Homo sapiens: one gene and its partners. The protein of the gene in region 3 interacts with the protein of the main gene of each other region in a pairwise test. Each region holds a gene or a part of one and is shown on either strand. Other genes may lie near its edges. The genes, in order: SIL1, IL37, UBQLN1 and PPP1R16A.

Region 1 (7,024 bases), on a different chromosome or scaffold from region 3:
TGGGAATAATATTTACTTTGAAGGGTGGTTAAATGACGTATTACACATGAAAGCTCTTGGGACATAGGAATGCAATAAATGTTTTCACCCTCAAAGAATGAAGATTTGCCGTTAATGAGAATATTCAAAAGAACATGAGAGTCTCTGGCCGGGTGCGGTGGCTCACACCTGTAATCCCAGCACTTTGGGAGGCTGAGGTGGGTGGATCACCTGAGGTCGGGAGTTCAAGACCAGCCTGACCAACATGGAGAAACCCCGTCTCTACTAAAAATGCAAAATTAGCCGGGCGTGGTGGCGCATGCCTGTAATCCCAGCTACTCGGGAGGCTGAGGCAGGAGAATCACTTGAACTCGGGAGGCGGAGGTTGCAATGAGCCGAGATCATTGTGCCATTGCACTCCAGCCTGGGTGATAGAGCGAGAGATTCTGTCTCAAAAAAAAAAAAAAAGGCTCTGAAAGGAAGTTGTACCTTTTTCGAAATAGGTGGATTCTCTTTTTCACATACTTGTGGATTCATACTCTGACCTGCTCAGCCTCCCCCTGTCTTTCTTCATTCATTTTCTGTCCTTTCCTAAGTGAAGTTTTGCTGCAGAGGCTGTCTGCCAGTCTCTTGTAGTAAGCCTCTTTTCAGGAGAGCTAATCTGAACTCTCTTACAATGCTAGTCCCTTAGTCGCTATTCCTAGGGATTTTTTTCTGGGGGCTCCAGATGGTGCTTGGATCACGCTCTGTAGCACAGCCATCTCTAACTCCTGGATTTGGTGTCAATTTGGAGACCCATCCTGTGGAGCTAATCTTCTCTCTTTCTGAGCAAGGATGAATACTTTATCCTTTTCTGAGTCGGCCTTAAACTGCAAACCTTAGTCTTCTACAGCAGAGAGTCTTGTATTTTAATTATACGTAGACTAAAGACGGAATAGCATGCCCTTTTCTTTTCTTCCTTTACTTTCACCAAGGATTTCACTGCTGAGTAGGGGAGTAGGAGAATAGCCTGTTGCCATTCAGAGTGAGGCCTTGGGTAACCCCTGATTCCTAGCATAAGCAATAACTGAGTTCATCTTTGGGACAAAAACCTTGTAAAAGATTCGGGCTGCTCAGACACATGTGGAGAACCTCAAGCTAGGAATTTTCCTAGCTTGTGAGGAGTTTACACCTGGCATTCTTACTTTTGCAAATTTGTACCCAGAATCCAGTAGCAACAAAACTATATTCAGCCCAGACTTGTAGTTCCTTCAGGTTCCACCAGGCAGCTGTAAGACATGGCTGTGATTATGCTGGCTGGCCATGTTTGCCTTCATCCTCCTAATACTGCCCTTGGCTTTGGTATTGAGAAGGAAGTGGCATAATCAATTCATGAGTAACATTCTCTGCCAAAGTGGAAATCAGGGGCAGAGAGTTGTGAGCATAGGACTAGACAAATGGAAAGAGCCAGCCTTGCCTCAGGAATGCTGCTAAAGTGCTGTGAATCCGTGACAACCACTGTGTTTCTTGGTGTCACCTCATTTGTGAAATGGGAATGCCTTCATTGATCTCTCTCTTGAGAAGAGTGGACCACCATGCCAGTTTTCCCAGGACAGAGGGATATCCGTATGTGGGACTTTTAGTGCCAAAAGCAGGAAAGTCCGGGGCAAACCAGGACAAGTTAGTTACCCTACCCATGACCATTATACAAGTTAATGAACACTGTGCCCTTAGGGTTCATCTAAGACTCAACCCTTTGGGTTCATCTAATTATTTTTCAACCTTTTGTTCATTATCATATTTTGAGACTTTTTTTCCCTTAATTGTCTACTCCCCAGTGGAATGTTTTTTTGAGAGGGAGTCTCACTCTGTCGCCCAGGCTGGAGTGCAGTGGTGTGATCTCTGCTCACTGTGGCCTCTGCCTCCTGGGTTCAAGTGATTCTTGTGCTTCAGCCTCCTGAGTAACTGGGATTATAGGCGCCCACCACCATGCCCAACTAATTTTTGTGTTATTTAGTAGTAGTTTTTGTGTTTTGCCATGTTGGCCAGGCTGGTCTTGAACTCCTGGCCTTAAGTGATCTGCCCACCTCAGTCTCCCAAAGTGCTGGGATTACAGGCATGAGCCATCGTGCCCAGCTACCCCCAATGGAATTTTAATACCACAGATGTACTGTGTATCTGTTTTTGTATTGTGGCCCTTTGGATGGCCACAAACCATTGTAATATCTAACTTTTTTTCCCCCAAGAATCAATTTTCACCCCTTCTGGGCTGTTACTGCACTCACTGAGAATGCATGGTCTTATCTGATATTCTTTCTTTAATGTAGTCATCAAGGCCAGTTTTTTATCCAGAAGAAACAGCTAGTACCACAAGCTTTTTCGTTTCCTTTCCTGTTTTTTTTTTTTTTTTTTTTTTTTTTTTGAGACTGAGTTTCGCTCTTGTTGCCCAGGCTGGAGTGCAATGGCGTGATCTTGGCTCACTGCAACCTCTGCCTCCTGGGTTCAAGTGATTCTCCTGCCTCAGCCTCCTGAGTAGCTGGTACTACAGGCATGTGCCACCACATCTGGCTAATTTTTTTTTTTTTTGGTAGAGACAGTCTCACTGTGTTGCTCAGGCTGGTCTTGAACTTCTGGGCTCAAGCATTTCTCCTGCCTCGGTCTCCCAAAGTACTGGGATTATTAAGTGTGAACCACCACACCCAGCCAAGTTTATTCTTTATTGTTTTAATTTTCTTCCAGTCTTTGGATTTTGAGGTGGTCCATTTATCATCTGCTTCTCTGGTGCCTCTTGGACCTTCCATCTTCACAGCTGGGGCTGCTGTGTTGGCCCAGGTGTCCCCAGACTGGACATCGGAACCTTTGGGAAGAGTCTGATGTTTGGCCCTTGTCACATTTCACATTTCACATCTACAGAGAAATGGGGAAGGGTATGTTTCTGAGGTCTGCTCATAGGCTATGTTGTGACTGAGGAAGTTCTTGATCATCCCTTTTGGTTACCACTTATCATCACTGGCAGAAAAACATCAAAGTGGTCAGTGAACTCATCTCCACATCTGGCTACTTCCATCTCTGCAAGTAGTTTGCTTCTTCAGTCTTGTGATGGGAAAGAGATCTAGAAACTGGAAGAATAATCTGAGATACATCCTAAAGTTCTGGTGAGGAAAGCTAATGCCAATGGACTTTTTTTTTTTTTTTTGAGATGGGGTCTTGCTATGTTGCCCAGGCTAGTCTTGAACTCCTGGGATCAAGCAATCCTTCCACCTCAACCTCCTGAGTAGCTGGGATTACATGCATGTACCACCATGCCTCACTCGCCAGTGGATTTTTTTTTTTTTTTTTTTTTTTGAGACAGCATCTTGCTCTGTTGCCCAGGCTGGAGTGCAGTGGCACAATCTCGGCTCACTGCAACCTCTGCCTCCCAGGTTCAAGTGATTCTTCTGCCTCAGCCTTCCGAGTAGCTGGGACTACAGGCGCCTGCCACCACGCCTGGCTAATTTTTGTATTTTTAGTAGAGATGGGATTTCACCATATTGGCCAGGCTGGTCTCAAACTCCTGGCCTCGAGATCTGCCGGCCTCGGCCTTCCAAAGTGCTGGGATTACAGGCGTGAGCCACTGTGCCTGGCCCTTTTTAAGAGGGTCTCACTCTGTTGCCCACGCTGGAGTATAGTGGTGTGATCATAGCTCATTGCAACCTCCAACTCCTGGGCTCAAGTGATCCTCCCACCTCAGCCTCCCAAGTAGCTAGGACCATGGGTGTGCACCACCATGCCTGGCTAATTTAATTTTTTTTTTTTTTTTTAAAGAGACAGGGTCTTGCTTGCAACATTGCCCAGGCTGATCTTAAATTCCTGGCCTCAAGTGATGCCCTACCTTGGCCTTCTAGAGCACTGGGATTACAAGTGTGAGCCACCATGCCCAGCTATACCAGTGGGCTTTTAAATGGACATTTCTTTACCTCTGGGGATAGTCTCATTTTTGTGAGGCTCCCAAGGGGAAAGCAGCCATCTGACCAAACTAGAAAACTAGCAGGCTTCAGCCCAGTGGAATAACATAAAGTAGGACAATCGATACAGACAACATTGATTGGCCATGCTTTGAGTGCTGTGGATAGTGTGTATTGGAAGCTTAAGGGGCCAGCTCATAAGTAAGTTGTAAGTAAGTATTTAAGGATGCTTTTTTTTTTTTTTTTTTTTTTTTGAGACAGAGTCTCACTGTCACCCAGGTGTGAGTGTGATCTTGGCTCACTGCAACCTCTGCCTCCCAGGTTCAAGTGATTCTTGTGCCTCAGCCTCCTAAGCAGCTGGGATTACAGGTGCTTGCCACCATGGCCGGCTAATTTTTGTATTTGCAGTAGAGATGGGGTTTTACCATGTTGGCCAGGCTGGTCTTGAACTCCTGACATCAGGTAATCTGCTCACCCCGGTCTCCCAAAGTGCTGGGATTACAGGTGTGAGCCACTGTCTCTGGCCTAAGGTTGCTTCTTGTTTTTCCCCACACCCCATCTCATACTCATGGGGAGTTGGGTTTGACTGTATTCTTGAAGTTAAGTCTCCATCCTTGGACCCAGCTGCTAAAGTCTAAAATGATTGTGTTTTGGGCTGGAAGATATTATAGAGATCTTTATTTCCTTGCAAACATCAGGGCTGGCTGTTTGTGGTACTGTGGATGAGTGAAGAGTCAGGAGATACACTTCTAGTTCTGTTACTGCCCAATGCCTCCATTTTGCATTTGATAGGTTTTTATTTTTCTGACGACAAAAACTGAGCCCCAGAGAAGTGAAGTGGGCCACGTAATGGTAGGATCTTTTTTAGGCCACCCACATAATAGTGGGACTCTAGTGTTAGAGCTGGGACACAGGCTAGGGGTCTTACAAAGGGTGGCCATAGAAGTTGTTAGAATTGTTTAAAGCATTGTAAAGATGCAGGATGCTTTTGCAGTTAAAAGTCTCCTGGGAAGGAGGAGGCCCTGTCTCCACTTACTGCCTTGTACATGATCTTATACCCTCATGGTTGAAGATTTTTGCTGTCGTGCTGTTTTTCCTCCTACTCATGTCGAAATGTGTTTCTCTTGCTCTTACCTCAGAGGAAATGAATTTGAAGCCTTCCTCCGTGTTAGAAACAAATAGTGCTCAGGCCAGACTTGTGTGTTTCTGTAAAGAATGAGGCCAGATGTAACAGTGGACCTTATCTGGTGATCCAAGCAAACCTTCAAGACATCTCTAAGAGAAAGAGAGAAGGAATGAGTGTATTTCAGAGTGGTTTAAACACACTTTGGAGTCAGACTCACTTGTATTTACGTTCTGATATCTACTTACTAGTTGTCAGATTGTAAGTTACTTATTTTCTCTAAGCCTTAGTTTTATGATCTGTTGAATGGGAATAGTAATATGTATTTTTATAGCTATCTTAAGAATTCAGAGAATAGATATGGTGCTTCCTCTGGCACAATGTAAAACAGCAGTCCCCAACCTTTTTGGCACTAGGGACTAGTTTCATGGAAGACTATTTTTCCATGGACTGGGGGATGTGGGGGATGGTTTGGGGATGATTCAAGCACATTATATTTATTGTGTACTTTATTTCTGTTATTATTATTTTTGAGACAGAGTCTCACTCCATCACCCAGGCTGGAGTTCAGTGGCACAGTCTTGGCTCACTGCAACCTCTGCTTCCCAGGTTCAAGCAATTCTCCTGCCTCAGCTTCCTGAGTAGCTGAGATTACAGATGTGTACCACCACACCCGCTAATTTTTGTATTTTTAGTAGAGATGAGGTTTCACCATGTTGACCAGGCTGGTCTTGAACTCCTGACCTCAGGTGATCCACCCGCCTGGACCTCCCAAAATGCTGGGATTATGGGCATCATGCCCAACCTATTTCTATTATTATTACATTATAGTATGTAATGAAATATACAACTCACCATAATGTAGACTTAGTGGGAGCCCTGAGCTTGTTTTCCTGCAACTAGACGGTCCCATCTGGGGGTGATGGGAGACAGTGACAGATCATCAGGCATTAGATTCTCATAAGGAGTGTTCAACCTAGATCCCTTGCATGCACAGTTCACAATAGAGTTTGTGCTCCTATGAGAATCTAATGCTGCCACTGATCTGACAGGAGGCGGTGCTCAGGCGTTAATGCAAGCGTTGGGGAGCAGCTGTAAATACAGATGAAGCTTTGCTCACTCACTTGCTGCTCACCTCCTTGGATGGGTTTCTGATAGGCTACAGACCAGTATCGGGGGTTTGGGACCCCTGATGTAAATGCTCTGTGTTGTCATCATTATTGACAACAATAGTTTCCAGTTTCTGAGCCACGTCGTAGTTTCAGGATAGGTTATGCTGACCAAGCAAGTTTTATCTTAACCATCACCTCATTGTTGTCTTAGTTGGTTTGTATTACATATTATTTATACCAATAGTTATAGGTATTTCATGCTGAATAACTAAAAGTTGTGAGTAGCAAGGAACTTTGCTGCTTCTCTGCCATCTCCTTCCTTACTCAGCTTAGTGCTTATCTTTCTCAGGTTCTCTCTTGTCAGGTGCTCAAGCCAGCAGGCCTTGTTTCGGGGGCAGTGTCTGATGAGGGGATTTTATTGGGGTAGGGCTGGCTAGTCCAGAGCCTGCCTGGTCCCTCAGATAGTATGTTCTCCTTATCTCTTGCTTTCTGCTCTTCAGCCAGACATGAAGCAATTAGCTCATCAAGGGAATGTTGACTTTTGTCACTGCTTTCCTCTGATTTGTATGCTCATTTCTGGTCCTTGTGCAAAGTCACGGAGGCACAGTCACATACACTGACCCAGATTTTGTGCTCAAGTTGACTGTCTCTCTCTTTGAGATGTACAACTGGTTCCATGTAGCAAGGGAGTGAGGAAAAAGCCCCTGGAGCCAATCCCATTATTTTGATCTCAAGTTGAGTTTTTAAAAAAATCCAAGCACTATGACTATAGACCATGCCTCACTTCTCTGTATGAAACAAATAAGGTAAAAAAAACTCACTATTTGGAGGGAAGGCCAATCTGAATTGGTAAACAATAGGAATTAGTACATTCAAGAAAATGCCAT
Region 2 (7,795 bases), on a different chromosome or scaffold from region 3:
GTTTGTCCTCAGTGCTGGGAGGAGGTCTGTGTCTCCAGTCTCTTGGCTATGGTCAGAAGAGGCACCTGGAAGGTTCCCAGGCACAAACTCTTCCTTGCCCTGTGCCTCTTAGCAGGTGAGCATCACCTGCCCCTCCCCGGGCTCATCTTTCCCAGAGTTATCTCCTAATGGGATTTGCTTCCACAAAGGAAAGACTTCAGCCCCATCCAGCACCCTTAGGTGTCCCCATTCTACAATTCTCCCACCCTGTAAGAGGACCCAATGGCTCCATCCCCCATCCCCACCCTCGCACCTCAGCCACCCCCATCACCTCACCCCGAGGCCTTACTTGTGTGAACAAAATTCATGGTGGGGAGGCTTGGGCCTGGTTCCAGGGGGCTTCCAGCCGGGTCTGCAGTCAGACGCAGTGAGGTTAGCATATGCAATTCGGATTTTCCAAGGATTTAGGGGTATCAAAGACCATTTAATTCCCTCTTCTGTGTATGTGCTGAGAAATACTAGAGCAGCATGATAGTAATGACATTAAATCATAGCTTCCCTCTTCAGAAACATAGAATAGAGATGAACTGGATCACGGGTTTGGCCTCTGGCATGTCACAGGCCTCTCCCGTCACACCTCAGTAGACAATCATTTGGGTCAAAAGCCTCCTCCTATTGTCCCCCATGGGCAACACCCAAATGTGTTCCTCATGGAATACTCAGATGCCCTGTGCCTGGGTCATTTGTTCAGCCCAGCCTTAGAGAGCTGCTTCTCATCGGAGGCTTCTCTTCCACTTGGGAATGTTGGGAGGGAAGAGGTGCATTTTGAAGCATATGCAACCATCCAGTTGGCAAACAGGATGCTAAAGCCCCAAATCTGTAGGTGAGGACGATCCTTTTATCTACTACCTGATGTGCCTGGACACTGAAGCAAAGCTTCCTTTTCCCTTCCAGAATTTCTCTTGTCTAGTTATTTGTCCAGGGAAATTTGAAAGCTCACTTACTGTGCAAGTCAGCAGGAAACAACTGGGTCTGTGCACAGCACCTAGCAAAGTTCTGCTCTAGGAATTACACTTTGGCCCTGAGGTAGATTTCTACAAGAACCTTACCTTCTAAGCAGCACTGGGGTTCATCTTTTTCCCAGTCCTCAGAGCCCATTTTCACTCCTGAGTTCTCCCCCACAAAGGACATTTTCAACGTTGAGTTTATTACTCAACAGAAAATGGAATGAAGTCCAAGACCTAAGGAGATAGAAAGGGGACCAGTTATGGCATCTTCTCACCCCAGGACACCTTGCTGCATGTCTCTAGTGCTGAACAGACCACTGGCCTTGCTCTGTAGTTTGAAATGCTCGCTGCAACCAGAAAGGCACCAAGGGGCCAGACCATGCTCTCCTGTCTATCACGCCTTCAAAGCAGAATTTCCCAAACCTTGAGTCACAGTGCTAACACACGGGGTGCAATAGCATTTTTGTGGATCTTGGCATTTTACAAAAATAAAATAAAAAAGTTAAAAGTGCATTGCTCTAGTCTTGGGGCTGGCACACTATGGCCTTTGGCCAAATCCGGTCCCTGACTGTTTTTTTAAATAAAGTTTTATTGAAACACAGCCATGCTCTTGTTTACATATTGTCTCTGGCTGCTTCGAGGCTACAATAGCATGGTTAACTAGTTGAGAGATCATCTGGCAAGCAAAGCCTAAAATACTTACCATCTGACACCTTCTATAGAAGTTTGCTGAGTCTCTGCAGTAGCCTAATCTTTGCCTAACAAAAAGCAGTTGCTCTGCAACCTCTTTTCATGAAAACCTAAGCCACCAAATGTCCCAGGAGGCTCAATCCCTAATATCTTAGGGTAGGATTGACTCACGTGACTTGCTTCATTGGGAGGGGTTGGAGGAGATATATTTATATATATAAATTCTGCACACCCTATCTCAGTTGACCGAGAGCTTTCAACATCAGCCCAGGCCAACATAGGACAGAAGTGGAGCAAAAATTGGTATTCCCATCTTACCGATAAAAAATCAAAAGTTAAGTGATTTGTTCAGAATCATATCACTTCTAAGATTGCAGAGATAGGCAGTTTGTGTACAAATCCAATCCTTTGAGAAAGGTTTAGGAGTGAGACAAAGGGAACTAAATTGTTCATGCAAAAAATAAAAATGACAAGGAAGGGCTTCAGGACTCAACAATAAGGACGGTGAGCAGGAGCAGGTGGGTAGAGCTGATGGGTCTTTAGGAACAGGGATATCTGCTATTTGATTTTAACCTGTTTGTGGTTTGGCAGTATCCCTGAATACATGAAGCACAACTGCCTTTGTCATGTTGGGGTAAATCAAAGGACACAAAAAATTGGAGGCGCTTGACAGAGAATTTGGCAGCCAGAACATCAGAGCAAGAGATGTCTGGCAGAAACGTAGGTATCCAAAGACATATAAAGATACTGTGGTGCTGCTGAAGGACAGAAGGATGCTCACAGGCTGGAGGACCTGGGGCCATCCCTCGGGGGTACTCATGAAATCTGCTGCCTGTATTAAGATAAATGCAGGGAGCTTTCACAGAATTCCCTAAAGAAGCAGTGCATCTGGCCATCTGAAGTCCATCTCTTTGCACTCAAAATCTGTTCCCAAGGACCAATATTTTCTAGACTCTAAAGTCAGTCTTCTGAGCCTTCAGAGAAGGGACTAGCATTTCCAGGGTTGGTGGATTTCCTAAGCTAGTGTCTGCCTGGCCCTCCAGCAATGCCCTACTTGTTAGTGGAAGCCCTCCTGGGAGAGAGCAGGCTGCTACTGGGGCTGAGAGCAAGGTGTTCTGGGCAGGTCTCAGAGATCATATTTAGAAATTCAGATGTGCTTCCAGTGGGGATAAAAAGCAAGGGTCTAGATGGCCAGATGCTACTCTACTTCCCCATCCATCCTGTTGGCCTTGAAAGCCAGTGCAGGAGGACCACCTACCTGGGCCAGGGATCCTCGTGGTCTGTGGCTCTGTCTTGGACTCCTGGAGCTCTGTTTGCCTTCAGTTCTCAGGATCCTTTACTTGAAGGAGCTAGGTCTGGTACTCATTTGTAATCAACAGTTTGTGAGTGGTTATGCAAATACAACACAAGTATTCCTTTGGCCAATAATAAATAGCATCCTCAGTTATCAGTGATCACTCATTTCCTGCTATTTTCCATGCCAACGGTATAAACAAATTCCTGTGGGGGTAGTGCCACTCTGCTAAGGACTGTGCCACACCTATTCAACACATTTCAAGGTACTTGTGATAGATCAGGTGGCTTCCAGTCCAGTCCAATAATACAGGTATAGAAAACAGAGGAGAGTGAAGGAAAGAGGGGACACAGGGTTTAGATCAGCCAATGAGCCTGGGAGGTTCAAGGAAGCCCTTGTTCTCATGATGGTTCTTTGCCCCAATTCCAGAGTTCATGCAAGTGGAGTCCCCATGTCCCAGAGAAAAATGTCCTCTTTTCATGTTCCCTTCCAGGTACACTCCGGGATGCACTATACCTCTTCTATGTCCCCTCTTCTTCAAAGGTGACATGCAAAAGGACCTTCCTTGATCAAGCCCTCCAAGGACTAGCTTCCTTCTACAGCCCATTAGCTATTTATCTGCACTTCCTTGCATTTTTCCATCACATTTGCCCTTGTCAGTTACTGTGTATGGCTATGTTTTACAACACCACACACAGCTGCTCAGTATGAGGGGAAATCCACATAACCAATTAAGGTAATAGCTTCTGGACCACCACCAGCAGCATGTCAATAACACAGGAACAACAGGCCAGCACAATAGTCAACCACTGTGCTCTCACTGTGCCAGGTCTGGGCTCAGCCCATTTATTTATTTTTCTCCAACCAAATCCTTTGATGACCCTGGGGGTAAATACCATCCTTCCTGTTTTACAGACAAAAGGTGGTGCAGTTTAGAGAGGATGGACAATTTACCCAAGATCACATCCTTAATTACTGGAAGAACTATAACCCAGGCCTTTCTGAGCATGCTGCAGCCTCATCTCTTAAACTTCACCGAAGACTGTGGTCTCATCCTCTAGCCTTTCTTCACATACGCATTTATATAACATACAAATATAGGAGTGTGTCTGACAAATTATTTTGTAAGATACATTTCCTACTTAATGTATCTTGCCTTTTCTACTCAATATGATATCTCAAACATCGTTCCATTTCATCAATACTTTTCTACAATAGTGTATCTAATTACTGCAAGGTATTCCATTATTTGTCTAAAGACCTGGAAAAATGTTATTCCCTTGATGGCTAGAATACAAATCCCTGATTTCTGTTAAATTCCATAAGGAGACACATATCTTTAGAGAACTTCTTGATAAACCTCTTGGGATGGGATGAGATTGTGAAGGAAAAGAGGAAGTAAAAATTTTAAAAAGTCAAAACAAACACTAACTTATCTTCTAAGAAGGTGGTTGGGGTAACTGTAGGCACTTCTGTGGTGCTCACTTCTGGAATGAATGAGGATGTGAGTGTGGGGGCAGCAGGCCATTGCTCTCAGGACAGGGAAGATGGAGATGCAGGGAGGGTGCCATGTTGAGGCAGTTGCAATAGAGACTTGTAGAGATTCAACCAAGTGGTTCCGGAAAGGAAGGGAAATGAGAGAGAAGAGTTTGTCTTTAATAGGGGGTGCTACCTAGTGTAGTATGGAGTATTCATAAACTCTTGCCTTTATTGCCCCATGTAAAACCTCAATAAGTTCGATTATCTGTACCAATACTGATATACAAGGGACACTGTTTATAGGAGGTTGAAGCTCGAGAGAATAAGGGGCAGCTAACTTGTATGTCACATATGGACAGATCATAGTCTAACTAATCCTCAATTTTGAACATCTGAGTTATTTTCACTTTTACATTATTATATGTATGAGATATATATATATATACACACACATATGCATACATAATTCTGTGCTTAATATGCTTGTCCAAATCTTTGCATATATCATTGATTACTCCACTAGGATAAATTCCTACATGTGTAAATGCTAGACCAAAGGACATACATATTTTATTTTATATACTTTTAAAAATTTTCTATCTTACAACGATTTTTAAGGACTCCAATTTATTGAAAAACAAATTCACTTTTCTAACTACTCACTGCAGAGGCAATCACCATGCAGACTTTTGACAGGTAGCTGAGTTCCTGTGTGTATGTTTCTGTGGTATGTGTATATTTGGGGAGATGCATGTATACTTTGTGTATGTATGTTTTGTACAACATATGTATTTTCATGCCATTATGGAGTTGAAAGGTGAGGCCAGGTGGACTTCCTGGGTCCAGTGGGGACTTGGGGAACTTTTCTGTCTTACAAGAGGATTGTAAAACACACCAATCAGGAACTTTTCTGTCTTACAAGGGGATTGTAAAACGCACCAATCAGCACTCTGTAAAATGCACCAATCAGCAGGATTCTAAAAGTAGCCAATCACAGGGAGGATTGAAAAAAGGGCACTCTGATAGGATGGAAACAGAACATGGGAGGGGCCAAAAGGAAGTAAAAGCTGGCCACCCCAACCAGCAACCCTGCTGGGGTCCCCTTCTGGGTTGTGGAAGCTTTGTCCTTTTGCTCTTCACAGTAAACGTTGCTACTGCTCACTCTTTGGATCCATGCCATCTTTAAGAGCTGTAACACTCACTGCGAAGGTCCACGGCTTCATTCTTGAAGTCAGCGAGACCACAAACCCACCAGTAGGATCTATCTCTGGACACAGGTTTGTGGGCATGTTTGGTGTGTGTTGTGTGTATATATTTTGTGTGTGTGTTGTGTGTTGTTATGTGTTGGGGGTATGTATGTTTTTATGATTTTGTGTGTGTGTTATGTGTGTGTTGGGCGGGGAGAAAAGCCTTTGGTTCCTTTGTGTCCACAGCACGGGACAGGGCTCAGCATAACTAGCGATTTGCAGTTGATTTATTTACATGAAACGTATCCCCTTTTGCACTTTAGGCCAAAAAAAAAAAAAAGTGCAGTAGAGCGATGCTCCTCCATTTGAACCAGCCTCCTGCATTCAAGGTGGGAGATGTGCTGAGAGACATCCAGGAGTTGTTTTATGAGGATTACCAGATGACTCTGGAATTCCAGTCATTCCCAAGGATACTCTTTTGATATTTCTGAACAGATTAGACCCCACTGAGAGATTCCACCTTTAAAGAAATTCAATGAGATCACATGGACACAGGAAGGGGAACATCACATTCTGGGGACTGTTGTGGGGTGGGGGGAGGGGGGAGGGATAGCACTGGGAGATATACCTAATGCTAGATGACGAGTTAGTGGGTGCAGCGCACCAGCATGGCGCATGTATGCGTATGTAACTAACCTGCACAATGTGCACATGTACCCTAAAACTTAAAGCATAATTTAAAAAATTAAAAAAAAATTAAAAATAAATAAATAAATAAAAATAAAAATAAAATAAAAAAATTTAAAAAATTAAAAAAATATAAAAAATAAAGAAATGCAAGTGGCCTCTTCGCAGCAAAGCCAGGTAAGCTGACACGAGGAGACAGACAGCACGTGCTGCCAGGCATTCCCTTCATCAGACACCAGCTCCTGCCCAGCGTGGGAAGCCAGGGTCCTGGTCACTGTGCGGGGCCGAGGCTGCTGCTCCTTGAGTGACACAGCAAAGGGCATGTGTCCCCAGGTCACTGGCCATCCTCTCTGATACCAGACTTTTTGGCATTTGGGACCCTCACCTGAAGCTTCTGGCAGATCTGGGGGGTGGGCCTTGTTCCCCCATCCACAAGTTATTTCAAGAATTTACATCCATTTTTTGTTGTTATTTGGGCCGTAGGATGTGAGTTTTAACAGAGACAAGGGAAAGCTCTCAAGAGAATGATCCAGATTCCTGGGAATCCTATAAGCCCTCCTCCACCTGACTAGGACTGCATTTTTAAAGCCTTCATTTGTGCAAAGGCCTTTGTGCTGACATAGTAATACCCCATTCCAGGAACTTGGGCCATGGCCTCCTGTCTCGGCAGCATTTCTGGGTTAAGGGGCAGCCAGTGATTGTCCTCAATGCTTGAGGCACTACAGGGTGGGAGGTGGAGGATCACAGGTGAGTCAAACAGGAAGCCTGCTCCTGGGGAGCTTACAGTGATGTAGGGTGGTGAGACAAGGACACCAATACCTGTGTGCAGGTACCACTAACAAGTACAAAGCACTGCAGCAGCAGGGAGGAAACCTCCCTGTGCAGAGGGGGCTGAGGAGGGCTGCAGGGAGATGACAGGAAAGCCGGTGTTAAAGTAGGAGTACTTCCCACTCTCTGGGCATGAGGAGACCAGGAGGACATTCCACAGTGAGAAACCCAGGCAGAGGCCGTGTGCTTATGGCATTGGGGGGGAGAATGACACCTTAGAATTATTCTCTACATTGGAATTGTCTATTACAGATACCCATATTGTAGCTTCACATAGTGTGGTGGTTAACTGTGTTATCATATTGTCTTATTTGCTATTTTCCAGCCACCCGCCCATCCCTGATAGTCACTGGCCCAGCACAGGGCCTTCCACCTTCCATCAAACAAATGCCTGAGCTTCTCACCGAGGGGTAAATCACCTGCCAGTAGGGAAGGATCCCTGTTATAACCCCTCTCCAGGCAGGCTTGGTCCAAATGAACTCCTAGGAGCCCACGCCCTGGGAAATCCCCTGGCCACTGTTGTGGCTGGTCCTGCCAGCTAGAAGAGGTTCCTCCAGGGCCAGATGCAAGCTCTGTGGCTGTTCCAAGGAGGCTCTGCAGCACTAGCTCAGCCTTGTACCATGCTGGGCTCCTGGGGATTTCTG
Region 3 (7,024 bases):
AAGTGGACAAAAGTAAATTTCTAACCTGTTCACACATGAGAATCTGCTTCACACAAACACAGATCTTAACCCCACTATGAAAGATTTGGCTCCACAAAGTCTGAGGGTAAGATCTGGGAATCTGATTTTTAATAAACCTGGCAGGTGCTCTGATGCAGCCAGTATAGCCCTGACCTCAAGACGGGTGCTTGACAATCTACTGATCTAAAATACAAAACCAGGCTAAAGACAGCAAACATGTGCTCTAGTAACAACTACACAGGTAACTAGTAACAACTACACAAGTAAATAAGTGTTCTCTCTACATTTAAAGCTTCCTTTAAAAAACAAAATGTGACCAGGTGCAGCGGCTCACACCTATAATCCCAGCAATTTGGGAGGCCAAGGCAGGCGGATCACCTGAGGTCAGGAGTTCAAGACCAGCCTGACCAAGATGGAGAAACCCTGTCTCTACTAAAAATACAAAATTAGCCGGGCATGGTGGCAGGTGCCTGTAATCCCAGCTACTCGGGAGGCTGAGGCAGAAGAATCACTTGAACCCAGGAGGAAGAGGTTGCGGTGAGCTGAGATCGTGCCATTGTACTCCAGCCTGTGCAACAAGAGCGAAGCTCTATCTCAAAAAAACAAAACAAAACAAAACAAAAGCAACATGAAAAATATAGTTTATAAAAGATACTCACTATACATACACACAAAAGCACAAAGAATAAGAGTATAAACAATGTTTTAATTATGTAAATGAGGACAACAAAGAAAAAAGCCTGAGTTGTTAAAAGCATACCTCCTACTCCAGGCACCAAATTTGGCGCAGTAGTACTCTGCCCAGAAGTGCCACTGGCAGTACTACCAGTAGTGCCACCCACAGTGCTGGCAGTGCCGCTGGAAGCTGATGAACTCTGGGAAGTCTGTGGAGCCCATGGATTGGGTAGTGGATCTCTATTTTCTGTACGGGAAGGTTGACTACCTTCACCAGAGGATGTATTGCTCACCAAGGAAGCAAATGGATTACCACCAAACTGTAATAAAAGACATAAAAAATCACAAAGAATAAGCTTTTGTTTTAAATAAGATATGAAACTTTTTTTTTTTTTTTTGAGACGGAGTCTCGCTCTGTGACCCAGGCTGGAGTGCAGTGGCGCGATCTCGGCTCACTGCAAGCTCCGCCTCCTGTGTTCACACCATTCTCCTGCCTCAGCCTCCCGAGTAGCTGGGACTACAGGCGCCCACCACCACGCCCAGCTAATTTTTTGTATTTTTAGTAGAGACGGGATTTCACCGTATTAGCCAGGATGGTCTTGATCTCCTGACCTCGGGATCCACCCGCCTCGGCCTCCCAAAGTGCTGGGATTACAGGCGTGAGCCACTGCACCCGGCCACTGAACTTTTTAAAAATTGAAAACCACATTCCTCATATAAAAGCTACCCTCAATCATACACATATTTGTGTTAAAACAGAAGCTACTCCTTGGCCTGAACCTTGGAGCCAGTGGATCACCTGCTCTTGTGCAGCACTCAGCATTGGTTCCTGAATATCTGTGTACATGCGCCTTAAAGCATTATATCCCCCTGGGATGCTTTCTAGGTTGCTCAAAGCTCGGTCCTGGTTCCTCATCATCTCCTGCATCATTGCTGGATTCCTGGCAAGTTCCAACGTCTACGAAAAATATTTCCAAAAAAAGAAAAAAAAAAGGCATTGAAATACACATGAATTACATTAATTACTTTATTAACTGCCATTAAACAAAGTTTATGGGAGGCCACTGTTTTGTTTTGTTTTTTTAATTTTTTTGAGACGGAGTCTTGCTTTGTCGCCCAGGCTGGAGTGCAGTGGCATGATCTTGGTTCACTGCAAGCTCCGCCTCCCGGGTTCACACCCATTCTCCTGCCTCAGCCTCCCGAGTAGCTGGGACTACAGGCGCCCGCCACCACGCCCCGCTAATTTTTTTTTGTATTTTTTAGTAGAGACGGGGTTTCACCGTGTTAGCCAGGATGGTCTTGATCTCCTGACCTCGTGATCCGCCCACCTCAGCTTCCCAAAGTGCTGGGATTACAAGCGTGAGCCACCGCGCCCGGCCAGGAGGCCACTGTTTTGGACCAGCCTCCTGCACTATGCCCCAGCAGACCACAACAAACCAAAATAGAGCCACTTGTGCCAAGTGCCATGTAATCAAAGTGAACTATGAAAGGGGCCAGTTTCCCCCCCAAAACCATAGTAAGCTGCAGTCAACGTGAGTCACTGTAACAAGAAAGAGTTCCCTCCATTTTAACCCTATTAGGAAAGTAACTTCGAAATGACCCATCTGCTTTTTGTTCGTTTTTGCTTTCTTCAGCCCTTTTATGCCTATAAAGCCAACCTCTTCTGCTCAGCTCATGAGAACACTCTATTTTATAAAATGAGGTGTTGTCTGATTCTAGAATCACAAATAAAAACCAATTAAAGCTTTAAAGTTGTTGCAATTTTGTATTCAACATATAAGGCAGGAGGTTATTTTAAATAATCCCTGGTGTATTTCACCTCAAAAAAGCAACTTAGCATTCAAATAACATAAAGAAGGAAGCACTTTGTTATGAGTGAATTTCCCATCTCCAGCATTGGACTTTTTGATTCTTAAGCCTTCAAAATAAACTATTTACAAAGATCCTTCAATTTAACAGAAAATTCAGAGTTCAAACAGCCAAATTAGCGCTTTGTTGAGTTTTCTTAAACCAAGATAAGGATTTCTCTCTTTAGCTTAACCATACATACAGGACAATCTCATTAACCACAGAAAATTAAATAACAAATATATCATTTTTTAGCTAAACGAACTGAAAGAACTTTCCACATACTTGTCTCATTATATCTGGATTATTCAACATATGACTAATTTCTGGATTTCTCTGTATCAACTGCTGCATTTGTGGATTGGCCATAATTAACTGTCTCATCAGGTCAGGATTTGAGAGCATGCTCTGAACAAAGGGATTTTCCATGATCTGGACCATCATTTCAGGGTTAGACAAAAGTTGTCGCTGCATCTGACTCTGTAGTTCAGAGAAGTTGGTAGTATTCAAACCCAAGCTACTCAGACCTGCAAGTCCCCCAAGGCCACCTAAGAGGATAAAGGGCAAAAACATACAAATCAAAGTCAGAAAATTTATCATTAACATGACATAAAATATGAAGATGCAAAAAAGTATTAGCTGACCCAATAGTCTATTACAAGAAATCATTTAAAAACAAATCGAATACCTATTACTAATATTTAATTCCTATCATTGAAATTAGCCAAAAATTTACACTTTGGTAATTAAAGTAATAAAATCAACAAAATATATTTTCATGTATGTAGTATAATAATAAATATATTTGGTCTTTCTCCTTGATCCTGAGTTACTAAAACTTTGGAATTTTCTGAGTGACAGGAGTATCTTTTATTATTCATTACAAGCCCTTTTGATCATTATGCTAATGAAGTGACTTAGGCCCCTGGAAAGCCTCAGAAAGGAGCTGGTCACCAGAAAGACAAAGTGATTAAAGGGCTAAAACTTTCAGCCCCACCCACCAAGAAAGTAAGGGTAGGGAGGTGGAGATAGAGCTCTATGCAAATTCTTCAACAATAAAATTAAGAAAACTCAAAATGAAAAGCACATCTGAGTGTTAGGAGGGTTGTGCGCTGAGGAAACCTGGATGGAACCTTTGAGCCCAACTTCCATCCCCCACATACCCATACCTTGTGCCCTAATAATTATCTTCCAAGCATTTGTCTGTTTCTGAGTTGTATCCTTTATAATAAACAGGTAAACATAAGTGTTTCCTTGAGTTCTAGGTGCCATTCTAGCAATTATTGAACCTGAGGAGGAGGTCAGGGGAACCCCCAACTTAGAGCTGGTCAGTCAGAAGTACAGATGGCCTAGAACTTGTGACCAGTATCTGAAGTAGGGGCAGTCTTGCAGGACTGAGTCTGCTAACTTGTGAGATCAGACACTAACTGTAGGTAGGTAGTATCAGAAATGAAGCTGAATCTTGGACACAGAGCTGGTATTGGACAATTGGCTGGTGTCAGAAAAAACAGTCCAGATTATGCCAGCTAAAGGAAGAAATAATAAATACACACACCAGACTATGCTTCTAATAATCTTTCCAAAAGACTAGTTTAAGTTTTATTAACAGGAAGCAGAATTCACCTATAAACACTGGGTACAAGAGGGCTGATACTGCCAGTCAAGGAGACAGAGAGCCAGGGAATACCTGGAAATAGATTTCTCTTTGGAGGACTTCAATCAAGGAGAAACCTAACAGAGCAACAGGATGACCAAGTGCTTACCACAAAGTGTTTACTTCGTAAAATTACATAACCAACTAAATGCATTCAGTTCTCACTTACTGAGCACTTTTTATATATGCCAGAGACTGTGTTACATATGTATTGAGAATAAGGCAACAAGAAAGACATCCTCAGAACTCAATCTAGTAGGAAAGACAGACAAGAAAATAAATGTCTATACAGATGCTAAGTACTTCAGTAAAGAATATTCACAGGATATTATGGTAATATAACCCAAGTGGAATGGCTACTTTCAGAAGAAGAGATAACACTTAATGAGTCTGGAGCATAAATACTTTGGCAAGGAAACGTGAAGAAGGTTAGGAGGGGGACTGAATACTAGGCACAATGAACACCATATACAAAAAGCACAAAAATAAATGTATTAATGCATTCTTGAAACCACAAAAACTTCAGTATGACTAACTACAGTAGCAGATAGCAGTGCTCACCAAACATTTCATTTTGCAGCCTTATTATTTCTTTTGCACTTGGACAGGCCTATGTGAAATGCCAAAGGACTACAAGAAATGATATATGCCACTTCTGGCCAAAGTATAGCAGGTTCAACTTAAAACCCTGTAGCTGTCTCTTCTGCCGTGTTCCAAATGGTAGAGCTATAATACAGCAGAATGAAAAATGACTTTCATTAGCTTGAGTCTCTGAGGGACTATATGGATGGGCACCTTACAAACCGGTAAAAAGCGTAGCATGCAGAAAAATGCAGCAAGAAATGAAGCTTTGTTGTAATAAGCCACTGAGTTTGGCTATCTATTATCAAAAGAAAATGGATAACAGCACTTTGGCAGATCACAAATTCAGGAGATCTAGACCATCCTGGCTAATATGGTGAAACCCAGTCTCTACTAAAAATACAAAAAAATTAGCCGGGCGTAGTGGCACACTCCTATAATCCCAGCTACTCGGGAGGCTGAGGCAGAAGAATCGCTTGAACCCAGGAGGCAGAGGTTGCGGTGAGCCTAGATCGCGCCACTGCACTCCAGCCTGGGCGACAGAGCAAGACTCTGTCTCAAAAAATATATATATATATATTCCACAGAACCTCAATATATAAATCTAATACAGGCCAGGCACAGTGGCTCTCATCTGTAACCCAGCATTTTGGGACACCAGCAGGACACCGTAAGCCAGGAGTTTGAGGCTGCAGTGAGCTATGGATGGCATCACTGCACTCTAGCCTCCGTGACTGAGCAAGATCCTGCCTCTCTTAAAAAAACAAACAAACAAACAAACAAAAACTAATATAAGAAAAACAAAAGCAGTTTTAGGCGAGGCTGGCTTCCCAGACCCCCTTCCATGTGTTCAGGACAGTTACAAAATAACTAATGCAGTCTGATCCCTTCCTTTTACAAATGAAAAAATTATTATTCAGGGACGCTGGCTTACGATTAATAACCAGCTAATCTTACTCATACTAAATTATGTGGTAGTCAGATCAGGTATACACAAACTACATCTCTTTCATCATTAAAAAGAAAGGCGCCAACTGATATGTAAGAATATCCATATCCCCAACTACTTCCTTAATATCTACAATTATAGGAATGTATGTTTTTTTTTTTTAATTTTTGTTGTTAAAGTGACATAATGTTTTATTTTCTCATTTTATCTGAAACTACCCAGGAAGGGAAAGGAGTATTTTTTCCCATCCCTACTGGAATGACTAAAGACACTTACCTAAACCAAAAGGGTTGCTAGTAGCAGAACCAGATGTAGAGTTACTATTAGGAGTTGATGATGTAGTAACATTGCTTCCAGCTGTATTTGTTTGCTGAGCTGAATGATCCTGAGGCCTAGGGAAAATAATTAATCACAGAGTAAGCAGTAGAGCTGATTATTTTTAAAAGAACCACCAAAGGCCAGGCACAGTGGCTCACGCCTGTAATCCCAGCACTTTGGGAGGCCGAAGCTGGCTGATCACGAGGTCAAGAGATAGAGAACATCCTGGCTAACACAGTGAAACCCCATCTCTACTAAACATACAAAAAATTAGCCGGGCGTGATGGCGAGTGCCTATAGTCCCAGCTACTTGGGAGGCTGAGGCAGGAGAATGGCGTGAACCCAGGAGGCGGAGCTTGCAGTGAGCGAGATCGCGCCACTGCACTCCGTCCAGCCTGGGCAACAGAGCGAGACTCCGTCTCAAAAAAAAAAAAAAAAAAAAAAGAACCACTGAAATCCTGACATCTAGAAATAAAGGGTAAACTCTCAGACCAAATCAAATTATCATTTAGTAAAAAGCCTGAGAAAACTAAGCATTAGGAACAAAAAATACAAAATAAAATAAAACCCTACAAAATACAAAATATGCTGCAATTGCCCCTCCTCTTTGAGTATAATGTACACAAATATTTCATTAGTTTCAATCATATTGCTTATGTAAGAGATGGAGGTAGGTTATCTCATAAGAGGGAAGCCAATGACCAGTTACACCCACAAAGCTTGACTATATAAAAAACTTTTTTATCTTGGCCAGGTGCGGTGGCTCACGCCTGTAATCCCAGCACTTTGCGAGGCCGAGGCAGGCGATCAACTGAGGTCAGGAGTTCAAGACCAGTCTGGCCAACATGGTAAAACCCTATCTCTACTAAAATACAAAAATTAGCCGGGCATGGTGGCACATGCCTGTAATCACAGGTACTCAGGAGGCTGAGGCAGGAAGACTACTTGAACCCAGGAGGCGGAGGTTGTAGTGAGCC
Region 4 (7,024 bases), on a different chromosome or scaffold from region 3:
ATCTTTATGGGAAGATATAGGAGGAGACATCTCGTTATATGTTGCAAAACCCAGAACTGAAAAGATGTCATTTCTCCCCAAATTCATCCAAGATTTGACGTAGTCCCAATCAAAACCCCAACAGTGTGAGACTCACAAGCTAATGCTCCACTTATATGGAAACACAAAAGGCCAAGAACACTAGGGATAAGCCTGAAAGAGAACAAATTTGAAGTACTTACACTATTAGATGTCAAGACTTATTATATACAGTTTGGTAAGTAAGACCTAAGTTACTGGCTTAGGCATAGAGAAATAAACCAATGGAATACGGTTGAGTCCAGAAAATTGCCAGATGAGGCAGCTCACACCTGCAATCCCAGCAATTTGGGAGGCCGAGGCAGGAGGATCACTTGAGCCCAGGGATTCAAGGCCAGCCTAGGCAAAACAGGGAGACTCTCATCTCTACAAAATTTAAAAAATTAGCCAGGCATGGTGGTGCACCCCTGCAGTTCCAGCTACTTGGGAGGCTGAGGTGGGAAGATCACTTGAGCCTGGGAGGCAGAGGTTGCAGTGAGCCGAAATCAACACTGCACTCCAGCCTGGGGGACAGAGAAAGACTCTGTCTCTGACTGTTTTGTTTTGTCCCCAAAACAAAACAGAAATAAACCTACACATGTGTAGACATGCAATTTATGACACTGCTGGGAGTGGAAAAGCCTTCAATAAATGGTGCTGGGGCCAGGCGCAGTGACTTACGCCTGTAATCCCAGCACTTCGGGAGGCTGAGGGGGAAGGATTGCTTGAGATCAGGAGTTCGAGACCAACAGGGTGAAACCCCGTCTCTACTAGAAATACAAAAAATTAGCCGGTTGTGGTGCCACACACCTGTAGTCCCAGCTACTCTGAAGGCTGAGGTAGGAGAATCGCTTGAATCTGGGAGGTGGAGGTTGCAGTGAGCCGAGATCACACCACTGCACTCCAGACTGGGTGACAGAAAATAATCAAAAAACAAAAAAACAGAAGAAAAGAAAAGAATCTTGACCCCCACCCCAGGTGAAATGCAAATCTAACGTAAAGGTAAAATAATAGCACTTCTACAGAGTGGTGACACCAAAAGCAAAAGCACAGTCTATAAAACGGAAAACGGAAAAACTGGACCTTGACAAGATTAAAAACTTTTGCCTTGCTAAAAACCCTGAGAGGAGGATGAAAAGACAGCTACTGAGTGAGTAAATATCCACAGACCACACACAGAACAAAGGACTGCTGTCAAGAACACACGAGTCTCAAAAAATCAGCAGTAAAAATGAAACGATCCAATTAGAAAATGGGCAGAGGATGCAAAGACACACCTCACTGAAGAGGATACACAGATGGCAAATGCGTCCGTGACAAGATGCTCAACATCACCCGCCATTCGTAAAATGCAAATTAGAGCCACAGCGAGATACCGCTGCCCACGAATCCAAACGGCAAGGATGTGAGGACAAAGGAATCTCACAGGAGCTGATGAAAACCTGTGAAATAAAACAGCCACCACTCTGGAGAGCAGTGTGGAAGTTTCTTAAACCAAAACAGCTCAACATGCAACTCCCAAACCACCCAGCAGCTGCGCTCACGGGCCTTTATCCCAGAGAAATGAAAATTTAAGTCAGGCGTGGTGGCTCACGCCTGTAATCCCAGCACTTTCGGAGGCTGGGGCAGGCGGGATCACATGAGGTCAGGAGTTCAAGACCAGCCTGGCTAACATGGCAAAACCCCATCTGTACTACAAATACAAAAATTAGCCAGGTGTGGTGGCGCGAGATCACACCACTGCACTCCAACCTGGCAACAGTGTGAGGCTCTGTCTCAAAAAATAAAAAAAATTAAGTCACACAAAAAACTACATAAATGTTCATGGCAACTTTATTCATAATAGCAAAAAACTGGGGGAAAAAACCAAATGTCTTGTAACAGGTGAAACATGATGGTCCGTCCATCCATACCATAGACGTTTCCTCCAGTCAAAGGAACACACTAGTAGTGCACACAACTGGATGGACCTCAGGACATCACGCCGACCTCAACGCCCACACCCTGCAGCACTCCATTTATGGAGCATTCTCGTAATGGTGAAACCATACAGATGGAGAACATACCAGTGGCTCTCAGGGGTTCAGGCTGGGAAAGGGAGGTGGCTGTGGCTGCAAGAGGGCAGCTCAAGAGGTCCCTATGGTGGCTGTGCTGCATCTTGGCCATGGGCTCACACAAACCCTACAGTGACAGATGCGCAGAACTAAACCACACACACACAGGTAGACACATGGAAAGCTGTGAAATCTGAATAAGGTCAATGGAGCACATTGGTGTCAACATCCCCTTGAACTGCTGTACTCCATTGACAGGTGCAACGTTACCACATGGGTACCCGGGAAGTCTACAAGGGATCTCTGAGCCATCTCTTTTCTTTTTTTATTTATTTTTCTTTATCTATTGTTTTTTTTTTTCCCGAGATGGAGTGTTGCTCTGTTGCCCGGGCTGCAGTGCAGTGGCGCAATCTCAGCTCACTGCAAGCTCTACCTCCTGGGTTCGTGCCATTCTCCTGCCTCAGCCTCCCGGGTAGCTGGGATTACAGGTGTGTGCCACCACGCCTGGCTAATTTTTTGTATTTTCAGTAGAGACACGGTTTCACCATGTCGGCCAGGCTATTCTTGAACTCCTGACCTCAAGTGATCCACCCACCTTGGCCTCCCAAAGTGCTAGAATTACAGGCATGAGCCACTGCGCCTGGCCTTTTTTTTTTTTTTTTTTTTTTTTTTTTGAGATTCTATTCTTTTTTACTGGTTCTTTTGTCAATCCTTGAGCCTGTCCCACATGTCCTCCTCACTATGGCTTCCTAAGGAGCCTCCTCTCTGGTCCCACCTCTGAGGGGGCTGACTCCTACTCACACTCTGGTCTCAGCCTCCTTTCTGGCCCCTGGCATGAGATTCTTCATTCTGCCTCGGCCTCCCGAAGTGCTGGGATGACAGGCGTGAGCCACGCACCCGGCCTCTTTCCCAGTGATCTCAGTGCTCCTCAGATTCCCCCTGCATAACACCCAGCAGCAGAACCATATGAAATTGAAACTATTCCACTATTTTTTATCTACAAACACAAATCATTATTTACCTCAGTAACAGCTGCCTGGCTAAAGCCCTGTGAGGGAGGGAAGACCCCGTGATTTGGACATTTGCACACATCATGCTTCCAGCCCGGGACAGGAGATACGCGTGGACCACACCAGGGACTGGCCCGCTAACCATGAGCTCTCACGCAATGTCTGTCAGGGGCTGGAGAATTGGGGAAGCCTCTCCCCAGAAACCAGGGGAAGCGTTGCATCTCCCTCTTCAATTTCCTTTCCCCTTGCCACCTGGCTTCAAAATAAATCGAATAAACTAACTCACAGCAAGGTGTCAAAGGCCCAGATGCCTAAATGAAAGAAGCTGGCAGCCTGAGGCATCTGCATTTGAAAAGAGACTCAACGAGAACTGAAGATAAAAGCCAGCCCTAGACCAAAAGAAAGGGAAGAGAGGGCAGGGAGGGCTCCTAGCAGCCCCTGCAAATCACACCTTTCTAGAAGCCAGGGCCACAAGCAGCCTTCCCTATGAACTGCCTCATTCAGCCTCATAGCTCTAATGGGCCATAACCCCCACGGAGTAGATGTGGCAACTAAGGTCTGTCAAGTACAATGGTGAGGAAACCAAAATCACAAAAGTGAGCTTCAGAGGGGTCGGCGCTGTAACCCAGGATTTGCTCTGACTCGGTATTCACTTCCTCACAGAGACACAGACCTTTCGGTCTAGGTGGGGCTGTGGGAAGGGGACCTGCGGACAGACGTGCCAGTGGCACAGGGCCTGGGAGTGTGGAAGGAGGCAGCACTGGGACCGTGAGGGTCCCCAGCCTTAGGACAACAGAGGTGTGGGGTCTAGACAACCAACCTAGGGCGCAGGTGACACAGTAAGCCACTGAGATGCCTGTGAGCCTGGGACAGGAGCTGGAAAGGCATTTCCAAGAAAGAGAGCTCACAGTCAGCCAGCACATTCCTAGAAGTTGGAAGGAAAGATGGTAGGAGCTGTCAGAGCAGAGAGATGAGCAGGGGAAGGTGGCCAAGGAAAAAGAAAACAGGGAAGGGCTGGGCATGGTGGCTCACGCCTATAATCCCAACATATGGGAGGCCAAAGCAGGAGGATTGCTTGAACCCAGGAGTTTGAGGCTGCAGTGATCTCTAATCACACCACTGCTCTCCAGCCTGGGCAACAGAGCAAGACTCTGTCTCAAAAAAAAAAAGAGACCGGGCGCAGTGGCTCATGCCTGTAATCCCAGCACTTTGGGAGGCCAAGGCGGGTGGATCACCTGAGGTCAAGAGTTCGAGACCAGCCTGACCAACAGGGTAAAACCCCATTTCTACTAAAAATACAAAAGCCGGTCGTGGCGGCATGCACCTGTAGTCTCAGCTACTCAGGAAGCTGAGGCACGAGAATCACTTGAATCCAGGAGGCAGAGGTTGCAGTGAGCCAAGATGGTGCCACTGCACTCCAGCCTGGGCGACAGAGCAAGACTTCGTCTCAAAAATAAATGAATAAATAAAAAGAAATAAAGAAAACAGAACGACACAACACATAGGATGACAAAGTTCAAAAAATTCACGTGATGAAGGAGACTGATGATGCATGAAACAGGAGGAAAGCCTTTGAACTTGAAGCCAGCCAAGAACATCATTTGTAGGAGGCAGGAATTGGGACACTGGACCCACAGATGAGGAAACCTACTTTACACACACTGCCTGGTTCTGTAGATAGAAAGACTGACATGTGAACATCGTTACAGAACAGAACGTAACTCTGTCAGCCACACAACATAAAAAAGAAGGCATATCCTACTTCTGGGTACATACGCAAAAGAAATGAAAGTTGGGCCGGGCGCGGTGGCTCACACCTGTAATTCCAGCACTTTGGGAGTTGAGGGGGGCGGATCACCTGAGGTCAGGAGTTCAAGACCAGCCTGGCCAAAATGGCAAAAACCCGTCTCTACTAAAAATACAAAAAAATAAGCCGGGCGCGGTGGCTCACGCCTGTAATCCCAGCACTTTGGGAGGCTGAGGCGGGTGGACCATGAGGTCAGGAGCTCAAGACCATCCTGGCCAACATGGTGAAACCCGTCTCTACTAAAATTACAAAAATCAGCTGGACGTGGTGGCGGGCGCCTGTAGTCCCAGCTACTCGGGAGGCTGAGGCAGGAGAATCGCTTGAACCCAGGAGGCAGAGGTTGCAGTGAGCCTAGATCACTGCACTCTAGCCTGGCGATAGAGTGAGACTGTCCCAAAAAAAAAAAAAAAAAAAGTTAGCTGGGCATGCTGGCATGTGCCTGTAGTCCCAGCTACTCGGGAGGTTGAGGCAGGGAGAACTGCTTAAACCCGGGAGGTTGAGGCAGGGAGAAATGCTTAAACCCGGGAGGTTGAGGCAGGGAGAACTGCTTAAACCCGGGAGGTTGAGGCAGGGAGAACTGCTTAAACCCAGGAGGTGGAGGTTGCAGTGAGCCAAGATTGTGCCACTGCACTCCAGCCTGAGCAACAGAGCAAGACTCCATCTCAAAAATAAGTAAATAAAAATAAAATAAAAAATAAGAAAACTATAAACTGGCCAGGAGCGGTGGCTCATGCCTATAATCCCAGCACTTTGGGAGGCTGAGGCAGGCAGATCACTTCAGGTAGTCTGGCCAACATGGAGAAACCCCGTCTCTACTAAAAATACAAAAATTAGCTGGGTGTGGTGGTACATGCCTACAGTCCCAGCTACTTGGGAGGCTGAGGCAGAAGAATCGCTTGAACCCGGGAGGCCAAGGCTGCAATGAGCCGAGATGACACCACTGCACTTGGCAAGACTCCATCTCAAAAAAAAAGGCGGCGGCGGCGGCGGCGGCAGCCGGGCACAGTGGCTCACACTGGTAATCCCAGCACTTTGGGAGGCCAAGGCGGGCGGATACGAGGTCAGGAGTTCGAGACCAGCCTGGCCAGCATGGTGAAACCCTGTCTCTACTAAAAATACAAAAAATTAGCAGGGCATGGTGGCAGGCGCCTGTAGTCCCAGCTACTCAGAAGGCTGAGGCAGGAGAATTGCTTGAACCTGGCAGGCGGAGGATGCGGTGAGCCAAGATCGTGCCACTGCACTCCCGCCTGGGCAACAGAGCAAGACTCTGTCTCAAAAAAACAAAAAAGAAAAAAGAAAAAGGGAATCAACTACGGATACACAAAACCACTTGAATCTCTAAAACATTGTCATCTGGCAAAATAAATCAGACACAAAAGTATTCATTCCATATGATTCCATTGATGTGAAATTATTTTATTTTTTGAGATGGAGTTTCGCTCTTTTTGCCCAGGCTAGAGTGCAATGGTGCGATCTCGGCTCACCGCAACCTCCGCCTCCCACGTTCAAGGGATTCTCCTACCTCAGCCTCCCGAGTAGCTGGAATTACAGGCATGCGCCACCATGCCTGGCTAACTTTTTGTATTTTTAGTAGAGACAGGGTTTCTCCATGGTGGTCAGGCTGGTCTCGAACTCCCAACCTCAGATGATCCACCCGCCTCAGCCTCCCAAAGTGCTGGGATTACAGGCGTGAGCCCCCACGCCCAGCCAATGTGAAATTCTTAAAAAGGGACGCCAAACCTACAGTAATAGAAAGCGATCACTATTGCCTGGGCTGGGTGTGAGGAAGGGCTTACCACAGAGGAGCACGAGAGAACTTTTGGGGGCAACGGAAATGTTTTATATTTGGATTATGACGTTGTTCACAAAACCCATCAAACAGGCCGGGCGCGGTGGTCACGCCTGTAATCCCAGCACTTTGGGAGGCCGAGGCGGGCGGATCACGAGGTCAGGAGATCGAGACCATCCTGGCTAACATGGTGAAACCCCGACTCTACTAAAAAAATACAAAAAATTAGCCGGGCGTGGTGGTGGGCGCCTGTAGTCCCAGCTACTTGGGAGGCTGAGGCAGGAGAATGGTGTGAACCCAGGAGGCG

What was found.
Region 1: the proteins of UBQLN1 (region 3) and SIL1 interact in binary tests that used the Homo sapiens proteins (3 or more experiments, as listed by UniProt).
Region 2: the proteins of UBQLN1 (region 3) and IL37 interact in binary tests that used the Homo sapiens proteins (3 or more experiments, as listed by UniProt).
Region 4: the proteins of UBQLN1 (region 3) and PPP1R16A interact in binary tests that used the Homo sapiens proteins (3 or more experiments, as listed by UniProt).

The regions. Positions count from the first base shown.
Region 1 is NC_000005.10:139,188,354-139,195,377, reverse strand, and holds part of SIL1 (nucleotide exchange factor SIL1 precursor), read left to right. Parts: intron 1-7,024.
Region 2 is NC_000002.12:112,906,388-112,914,182, reverse strand, and holds the start of IL37 (interleukin-37), read right to left. Parts: upstream 3,019-7,795; 5' UTR 2,935-3,018; intron 1,221-2,934; 5' UTR 1,171-1,220; coding exon 1,089-1,170; intron 392-1,088; coding exon 329-391; intron 1-328. UniProt on the Homo sapiens protein: Immune regulatory cytokine that acts as a suppressor of innate inflammatory and immune responses involved in curbing excessive inflammation.
Region 3 is NC_000009.12:83,676,946-83,683,969, forward strand, and holds part of UBQLN1 (ubiquilin-1), read right to left. Parts: intron 6,122-7,024; coding exon 6,006-6,121; intron 3,093-6,005; coding exon 2,830-3,092; intron 1,655-2,829; coding exon 1,496-1,654; intron 1,017-1,495; coding exon 782-1,016; intron 1-781. UniProt on the Homo sapiens protein: Plays an important role in the regulation of different protein degradation mechanisms and pathways including ubiquitin-proteasome system (UPS), autophagy and endoplasmic reticulum-associated protein degradation (ERAD) pathway.
Region 4 is NC_000008.11:144,480,974-144,487,997, reverse strand, and holds part of PPP1R16A (protein phosphatase 1 regulatory subunit 16A), read right to left. Parts: intron 1-7,024. UniProt on the Homo sapiens protein: Inhibits protein phosphatase 1 activity toward phosphorylase, myosin light chain and myosin substrates.